Linked DNA regions of Homo sapiens: region 2 is reported to be linked to region 1. Evidence: microRNA targets listed by miRTarBase, many of them from high-throughput screens and not tested one by one. Region 1 holds a microRNA gene; the other region holds the end of a gene's coding sequence.
Evidence for each region. The annotated mature microRNA hsa-miR-3186-5p reads CAGGCGUCUGUCUACGUGGCUU and lies in region 1 at 1,995-2,016, opposite strand. An mRNA with a match to its seed (bases 2 to 7 or 8) in the 3' UTR can be bound and repressed. Matches are read on the target gene's strand: a 7mer-m8 pairs with bases 2 to 8, a 7mer-A1 pairs with bases 2 to 7 and ends in A, and an 8mer does both.

Region 1 (4,151 bases):
CTTAACCCAGCATGGATGTCGTCACACTCCGGCCAGGCCAGGTGTCCCAATCCCCAGGGTGTGCAGAAGTGGAGTCAGGGCCAGCTCTGCCCTCCGGGTCTCCACCTCATGGTCCCCCCCTGGGCCCCCACCCCTGCCCCTGCCCTCCCCTTGTCCCCGTTAATGGGCAGGTCTCTGCAGCTGCTGGGCTCAGAGCTGATCCCTACAAGTGTAGCGATCACTTCAATTGAAATTAATTAGGAGGTTGGTTTTGTCCTGTGCCAGACAGCAAGATTTGCAGAGGGGGAAGTGGAGAAAAAGCCCCCACCATCGGGGCCGGGCAAGCATAGAGCCCCCAGGACTGGCAGAACCATCTGGGTGAGGCCACGTGGGAGCCACACGCCTGTAGCCTGCAAGGGCAGGGGAGGCACAGAGGGGCTTCTGGCCAACTGCAGTGACCCCAGGAGACCTGGGGCCTTCAGTGGAAGGGGCCTGCAGATGTGCCTCCCCGGCTGCTGATGGCAGCAGCTGCTCAGCCCACCCCCCCTCGGCCCTCTCTCCCCCTCCCATTCCCTGCGGATCCTGGACCCAGCAGCCTGAGTGTTCCCTTGGTCCCCATCAGATCTGTGGTCTCGGTCCAGAGCTTTGCACCCCAGCATCTGCCCCTCCGAGCACCTCCTGGCTTCTTAGTAATGACTTCTGGGGATGGATCAACCCTTGGTCTGGGCTTGTGGCCCCCTGGCCCTCCCCATACTTGAGGAGGGAAGCAGCCACGCACCATGGAGTGCCCCAGCCTGGGCGCTCAGGTCAGTGCCTTTGGTGGAATCTCAGGTGCGTGCCCCAGCTGTCAGGCGCTGATTTGTCCCATCGTGGATGGGGTTCTCCCGCACTCCTGCTTCTGGCTGAGATGAGCCATATCTCTGGGGAGCCCCGGTCCGTTAAGTGGAGCGTGGGGTTCTGAGGCAGAGACTAGGTTTGGGGTGCTCGTTGCTGTGAGGTTATCGTTGCTCCTGGGCTTTCCCAGGGGATACCAGCACCTCTACTCACCCCACAGGGGTTCCGCAGTTCTCCTGCCTTCCTGGCCATCACCACCCACCCCCACCGCAAGGTGTCTGGCTCCTGTCTCCTGCTGGATGTCCTTGTGGGATCAGCCCATGGGGACCCCGTTCCTGGTCTCTGTGGTCAGCCCTCAGGGCTGGCTTCCCCTACTCAGGCCCTGAGTCCCCAACCTGGGCCCGACCCTGCATGGACGCCAGCCTCTGCTGGCCCATGCTCTGACCCCAAGATGGGCCATCCCTTCCCCAGGCCACTGCCTGGGCTGTTGGGCTGCCGCTGTTCCTGCGGTCACTGTGAGGGTAGCTCCCCTGTCCCTGCCCCCAGGTTGAGGTCCCAGAGGATGCGGCCCTGGCAGCCCCTTCCTCCTGACCTGTGTTCAGCCCATGGCCCTCCTGCCTGCCCCAGGGCTGGAGCGTGCTGGAAAGGGCTTGGCAGAGCCCAGCACTGTGTTCAGAGACCGGGCAGGGGCAGGGATTTGGTGCTCTGAGGGAGGATGGAGGAATGGTGGCTGCTCCTCTGAGAAGGGTCACAGCAGATGAGACTGCATCCAGAAACCCCTGCCCGCTGCCCTCCTCACAAGGAATCGAGGGCCTGGGGTCCCAGCTACCCAGGAAGCTGAGGTGGGAGGGTACTGGAGCCCAGGAGTTCGAGGTTGCAGTGAGCCGTGATGGAGCCACCACACTCCAGCCCAGGCAATAAAGCGAGACCCTGTCTCAAATTTAAAGGTATCGAGGGGACTTGTCCCCTCCCTCTGCACTGACCACTGGCCTCCCTGCAGCCATTGCTCTTTAGGTGTCCACACAGGCGAGTGGACGGAAGGACTGATGGGCAGATGGACAGGCAATGGCAGGTCTTAGCTGCTGGGGGACGCCAGCCTCCACCACCTGGATGGAGTGATGCCCAGGTGCTGAAGCCCCTGGTTCCAAAGCCATCTCTCCGCGTGACTTTGAACTTGGTTGAAGCCACGTAGACAGACGCCTGTTGGAACCGCAGGCTTGAGCCACAGCATTCAACTCGGTTGAACTTCAGCAGCTTCCGTGCACGAGGCCTCAGTGGGCTCTCGTAGCACTGCCTGTGTCTCTGAGGGCCCCAGAGTATCCCTTCCCAGGGCTGCCGTTCGAAGCAGGGCCCCCCCGGTGGGGGGACACACAGGCGTTTCTGTTAGAAGCTGTAACGAGCAGATTGCTTTTACTTCGATGCTTTGGGGCCTGTCTTGCTCTGTGACACAGAGGACCCTGCCCCGTGGGTCCTCCCAGCTGGCCCTGCCTTACCACCAAGGGAGTGTCTCCCCAGCATGCAGCAAAACAGGGGTGCTGGGTGTCAGCCCTGGTGCCCACCTCACTCTTCCCGGTCTCCTGACCCTCATCCCGGTCTTCAAGGCTGGGTGGCTTCAGGGGGCCAGGGCTGACATCAAGAGCCTGTGAGGGGCAGTGTGTGCCCAGTTATGCCCATGCTGACCTTCCCATGCCGCACAGAGGAGGAAGAGGACGTGCTAGCCTTCAACCTGCAGCACCTGGCCACGCTGGCCACAGCCTGGTCCCTGGTGGAGGCCGCTGGCCTGGACAGCTCCACTGCCCCAGCGCAGCCGCCCACAGCCAACCCCTGCAGCGGCCCCAGGCTCACCCCCCGCATGCAGATCCTGCAGCGCAAGGACACCTGGACCCCCAAGACCAAGCCTGTGAGTGGAGGTCCCAGTGCCCACGTCGCCCAGTGCGTTGCCACAGAGCCCCAGCCTGGGCCCTGGCCCGGCTCACAGGCCCCTGTGCCCCCCCCACCAGGTGTGCCCCCTGAAGGCCGCCATCGACCGGCTGGACACGCAGGAGGTGGGGATGCGCGTGCGGCTGGCGGAGCTGCAGCGGCGCTACAAGGAGAAGCAGCGGGAGCTGGCCCGCCTGCAGCGCAAGCACGACCATGAGTACGCCTGGCGTGGCGGGGGGGCCTGGGAGGGTCGCAGCACCCCCACCCCCGGGAGGCGCCCACAGTGCTGGGGCCGATGTGGGAACAGGCCAGGATTGGGCTCTGCCCCCTACCTGTGGGCAGACACCAGGGTCCATCGGGGAGGCCCCCCAGAGGCAGTGGGGCCCAAGGAGGGAGGCATTCGGCCAGCAGCGAGACCAAGTGGCAGGGCCAGGGGTCTGTGGAAGAGCCGCTTGTCAGAGCCTGGTGTGGCAGGAGGCTGGCCGCAGGGTGGCGGGTGAGGGGACAGTGGCAGAAGGGGGAGTAGGGAGGACTGGGGGTGCTGTGGGGCCAGGGCAGAAGTTGGGGGATTCTCTGGGGGAGGGGACACCCCGCAGTTGCAACAAGGGCAGGGGCACCACCTGACCAGTGTGTGTGGATGGTAGGAGGTGGGGGCGGCGGGGGCCCCTGGCTGGCCTTGCCCTCTGCGTGAGGGGTCAGGCTCCCCAGGCCGAGTCTGGGCCGCATCTTTCCCCACACCCAGTAGCCCTCGAAGGCCAATGCCCTCGGCTGGAACCTTGTCGGGGAGCTGGGTTGTGCATGAGCCTCTGACCATCCCCCCTGCGGCCCCCAGGAGAGACGAGAGTTCACGGAGCCCTGCACGGCGGGGGCCTGGCCGGCCGAGGAAGCGCAAACACTCAAGCTCGCTGCCTGCCCCACGTCCCACGGGGCCGCTCCCCAGGAGCGATGGCAAGAAAGTCAAGTGAGTCCTGGGCACTGGCATGGCAGGGCGCGTGTGGCCGGCCCTGGGCCCTCGAGGCTGGGGAGCAGGGTCCAGGCTCCCCTGAGGCTTCCAGGCTGCTGGTGCCCCTTCACACCTACTCTGAAGGCCTGGCCCTGCCCTTCCTAGACCATCGAGAGTGACCAGCAGACAGAGCCCTGCTCCAGACAGGCTTTGCCCTTCTGGCAGCTCCCAGCACCACCCTGGCCCGGGTCCCCCTCTGGAAGTCACGGCCCCCAGGCCCAGCCACGCCGGCTCTGCACACCTGGCTGTGGCATCGTCCCCGCCCGGCCCCCCTGGAGTGTGAGGCGGTGTTGCGTGCAGGCCTCTTTATCTGCACTGTATAAAGTCGTTGGTCACGCTGTGGAGCTGCTCACGGCTGCCGGCGCGATGTTATTATCCATTACCCGCCCGGCGCAGTCGTTGGCGCACTCCCGGG
Region 2 (4,000 bases), not on the chromosome of region 1:
CCCCTTGCTCTGCACCAATCCCAGGTGGACAGCTGTCCTTCCTTACTCCCCTATGCTCTCCATGACTCACCACAGCTTCCCTGATGAATCCCAACACAGCCTGCTGGATGATCAACCTGAAGAGCTTGTGTTCACTCACCACTCTGTCTCCTCTTGTGAAGGCTGCGCACACTAGCTGCTTCTAGTCAGCCATCTTGGCACTTCAGATACTTGTTTTCTTAAGTAGAATTTAGTAACTTGGAATGGAATCATCCAAAACTTAAAAGCAGACAGTTTAACTATTTTTTAAAATAGAGGGAAAGAGGTGGAGGGAGAAAGTAATTCTAGTGAGCCAAGTTCCATAACTTCAGAGCATAGAAATATTTTTGTCACCTTACCTATGGTGAAATTATTTTACATGAGGTGTCTTGCTGACAGAAAACAATGCTTGTTGCAATAAAACCACTGCCTTGAAACACTACTATACATAACTCTTTAACATTCCTGACAGTTGTTTCCCAACATGGATGTAAAGAACTTCAATGAAATTCATCAGACTCAAATATTAAGTAAATAATTTAATGATAGAACACTGAAATTTCTTTAGACACAGTATTTTCAAGTTATATTTCTGCCTGGAGTACAGATATGAAATAGCACAAACTGTACTCTGAATTAAGCAAACAGAATGAATAAAAAAAAAATATTCTCCCAACCTAAGTTTCCGTTCCTCATTTCCACTTGCCTCAGACTCTTTCTATTGAACATATCTAGTTAAATCTCTAATGGACGGCCTGTGGGAAGATTTACTGCCAACAGGGATGACTGACTTCTTTCCGGACACTGAGCAGGGGACTGTGGGCTCTGAAGCAGTTTACTTCCTGTGGAAAGCCAGTCCCATTTCTATTTTACTTCGATCCAGGCCTATTCAGATAAAGCACCACTCAGTAGCTACTGACCATTTAAGTATGGAGAGAAAAGCAAAGTAGAAAAATGGTTTTCACTTAAAGAAAAAGCAAATGGAAGACCAGCCATAATAGCTCCATGGCACAAGAGACATGACAGGGATCTCCTCCCCAGATGTCCCCTGATGTTTGTCAGCCTCTCATATCCCTGGCCCTCTGGCTTCTGGCTCTGTGATTACAGTTGCCACAGAGGATTCATGGACAGCAAAAAGCTTAAGGAACCTGGAGGTTTTGTACAACATGTACATTCTGCTGACAGAAACACATACATGGTATGGACTATTATTAAAATTGATAGCCTGCTTGCACTCAGTATACAGGCTGCTTAGGAACACTTTATTGGGAGATACCCTGCTGGTGTTGGAGCAGCACAAAATGATGAGGCTAACTTAAGTAGTGACAAGAATGATCCTCTTATACCATATGGCCAAAGAACAGCTGTCCATCCCCAAGTCTATGGGGGATCAGATGAAGTGTGGAGTTTGGTTGGTTGGTCAGTGAATTTTTGGTCAGTGAATACATACATATGGCATAGTGAAGTACAATTGCTTTTCTTTTCTTTTTTTTTTTGAGATGAAGTCTCGCTGTGTCACCCAGTCTGGAGTGCAGTGGCACAATCTCAGTTCACTGCAACCTCTGCCTCCCGGGTTCAAGCGATTCTCCTGCCTCAGCCTCCTGAGTAGCTGGGATTACAGGCACGTGCCACCACGCCCAGCTAATTTTTGTATTTTTAGTAGAGATGGGGTTTCACCATGTTGGTCAGGCTGTTCTCGAACTCCTGACCTTGTGACCCGCCCGCCTCAGCCTCCCAAAGTGCTGGGATTATAGGCGTGAGCCACTGCGCCTGGCCTACAATTGCTTTTCTTATGTTCCATTGCTTTATAAACTCATATCACATATACAGTCATCATTAAGACTTACTGACTGCAAGTACCAAATGTAGAAGCCTCCAACACTGTAAAAGCATGGCAAGACAGGCTTCAGGATGGGTCAGACCTGACATTACTCACTGTGGAGTACAAGCACTGAGTTCTTTCTAGTTCTCTCTGAGAGAGGTTCACCCACTGTCACACAATCACCAAACAGGGAAGAAGGCTTCTCTTGGCTTTGGCTCTCACTGTTCCTTGGAAGGGTTTCTGATTGGTGGAGGCAGAGCAGACAGTGAGTGGCCCAAAGTGGATTGATGGCCCCAGGCCAGGACCCAGAGACAAAAGGTAAGCGCTGTTGCTAGCCACATGGGTCTTCATCAGAGCACAGCAGCACCGCCTACCACTCAGCCCCTTCCTCAATCTAAAGCCCAAGAAGGGAAGTTCTTTGGGAGAGAAGGGAAGCTGGTAAAGGCCATGCTATTTCCCAAAGGCCTGACCCTCTGGGCCACCCCTAGCAATATAGTCAGCGTGGAATATGATCCCACCTAGAAAATGAATGGCACTATTTTAAGAGTAGAGCATCTTGGGGAAATCTAGGATACCTACTCTGAAGCTTTTACTCAAGTGTGGAAGCCACACCAGTATGCAGGTATACTGTCTTACAAATCTAGAAGGATATTTTAGTTTTCAAGCACCCCATGAACACTTTTTAAAAAATTCAACCACTGGCTGGGCATGGTGGCTCACACCAGTAATCCCAGCACTTTGGGAGGCCGAGGTGGGCGGATCACTTGAGGTCAGGAGTTCGAGACCAACCTGGACAACATGGTGAAACCTCGTCTCTACAAAAAATACCAAAAAAAATTAGCTGGACATGGTGGCGCGTACCTGTAATCCCAGCTACTCAGGAGGCTGAGGTGAGAGAATCGCTTGAACCCAGGAGGCGGAGGTTGCAGTGAGCCGAGATCGTGCCACTGCACTCCAGTCTGGGTGACAGAGTGAGACTCTGTATCAAAAAAATAAAAAATAATCAACCACTTAGAAAAGTACACACATTAAGCAGACCCTACATCTAGAATGGGTTAAGCAACCATTTATAAGCATCTTCATGAGAAATGATCACCTCTGGGTTTTTCTGATATTTGAAATAAACAAGGTACCAAACTGTATTTCCCTCAACACATAACTGTCCAAATTGCATGTACAAGTGGAGGTTTACGTAAAAGCCCTGACAGAACTATATTCCACCTTTTGAATTAGGTGCATAAGGCTACTGACCACTCTATATTTTACCAAGAGCAAGAGCGGTCACTTTTCTATTTCAGTACAATTATGGACAGAAATGATATGATGCAAAATAGAGGTTCTTCCATAAAGTTTAAGATGTAGGGTAGAAGGGAAGACAAAAAGCAAAATTCCCAAGAAATCAGAATAACTTCACACTGGTCTTGTACTCCAAGAAACCCTGAGATGAACTGTAGTCCTCAAACACCTGTGCTTGGCTCAGGCCCACCAAGACACTTCAGTATGCTTCCAACTGGTTCATCATCAACTTCCTGCTATATTCGTAGGCCAAAAAGAGTGCTCCATTGGCAGGGAATGCTCGAATCATAGTAGGTTTCAGTCCAGAATATAAGGCCGTTATTCCTAGCAAATAAAAGGGCGGTCAAAGACTGCAACAATCCCTCCTTTGGGGATACCCACGCAGCTGCATAGCATAGGTATATTTACACATGCAAACCCAGACAACAGTGCTAAAAACCAACAAGTCATAGAAGGATGCATTCCCAGCTTTTCCTAAATAGACTAATGGAAACAAGGACAAGTATCAGGTCTCCTGGCAAAACTGACTGATGCTCAGGTAACATACCCCAATTCCACGCTTGGTTAACTCTTAGTATATGGATGGGGCAGAGCTGAGGCCTGAGATGGCCAGACAGAGGCAACCATGGAGATAGAGGTGGCAGCAGCTTTGCAGCTTCACCTGGGCAGTGGCAGGAACACCAACCTTGAAGTTGGAGACCTGTGTATAGTATTAGTACTGCCCAGGGTGGTTATGAAGATTGAATTAGATAAGGGAGGTGTAAGTACTTTGTAAAACTTTACATGTTATACAAATGTAAGGGAGGATTACTATGAGTAACAGACAAGGTATCTGTCCTCTATTTGGGACACAAAGTTTCTGTG

Region 2: miRTarBase lists SLC25A15 as a target of hsa-miR-3186-5p. Seed matches in the 3' UTR shown: 7mer-A1 at 1,770-1,776.

What each region holds. Positions count from the first base shown.
Region 1 is chr17:81,449,158-81,453,308 of GRCh38, forward strand. MIR3186 (microRNA 3186) reads right to left here and starts at 2,031; the gene lies at 1,947-2,031. BAHCC1 (BAH domain and coiled-coil containing 1) reads left to right here. Exons shown (of 28, transcript NM_001377448.1): 12 at 2,511-2,713; 13 at 2,814-2,950; 14 at 3,566-3,694.
Region 2 is chr13:40,809,003-40,813,002 of GRCh38, reverse strand. SLC25A15 (solute carrier family 25 member 15) reads right to left here. Exons shown (of 7, transcript NM_014252.4): 7 at 543-3,460. The coding sequence ends at 3,336. It overlaps MIR621 (microRNA 621), which reads right to left and starts at 2,237; the gene lies at 2,142-2,237. It also overlaps the pseudogene TPTE2P5.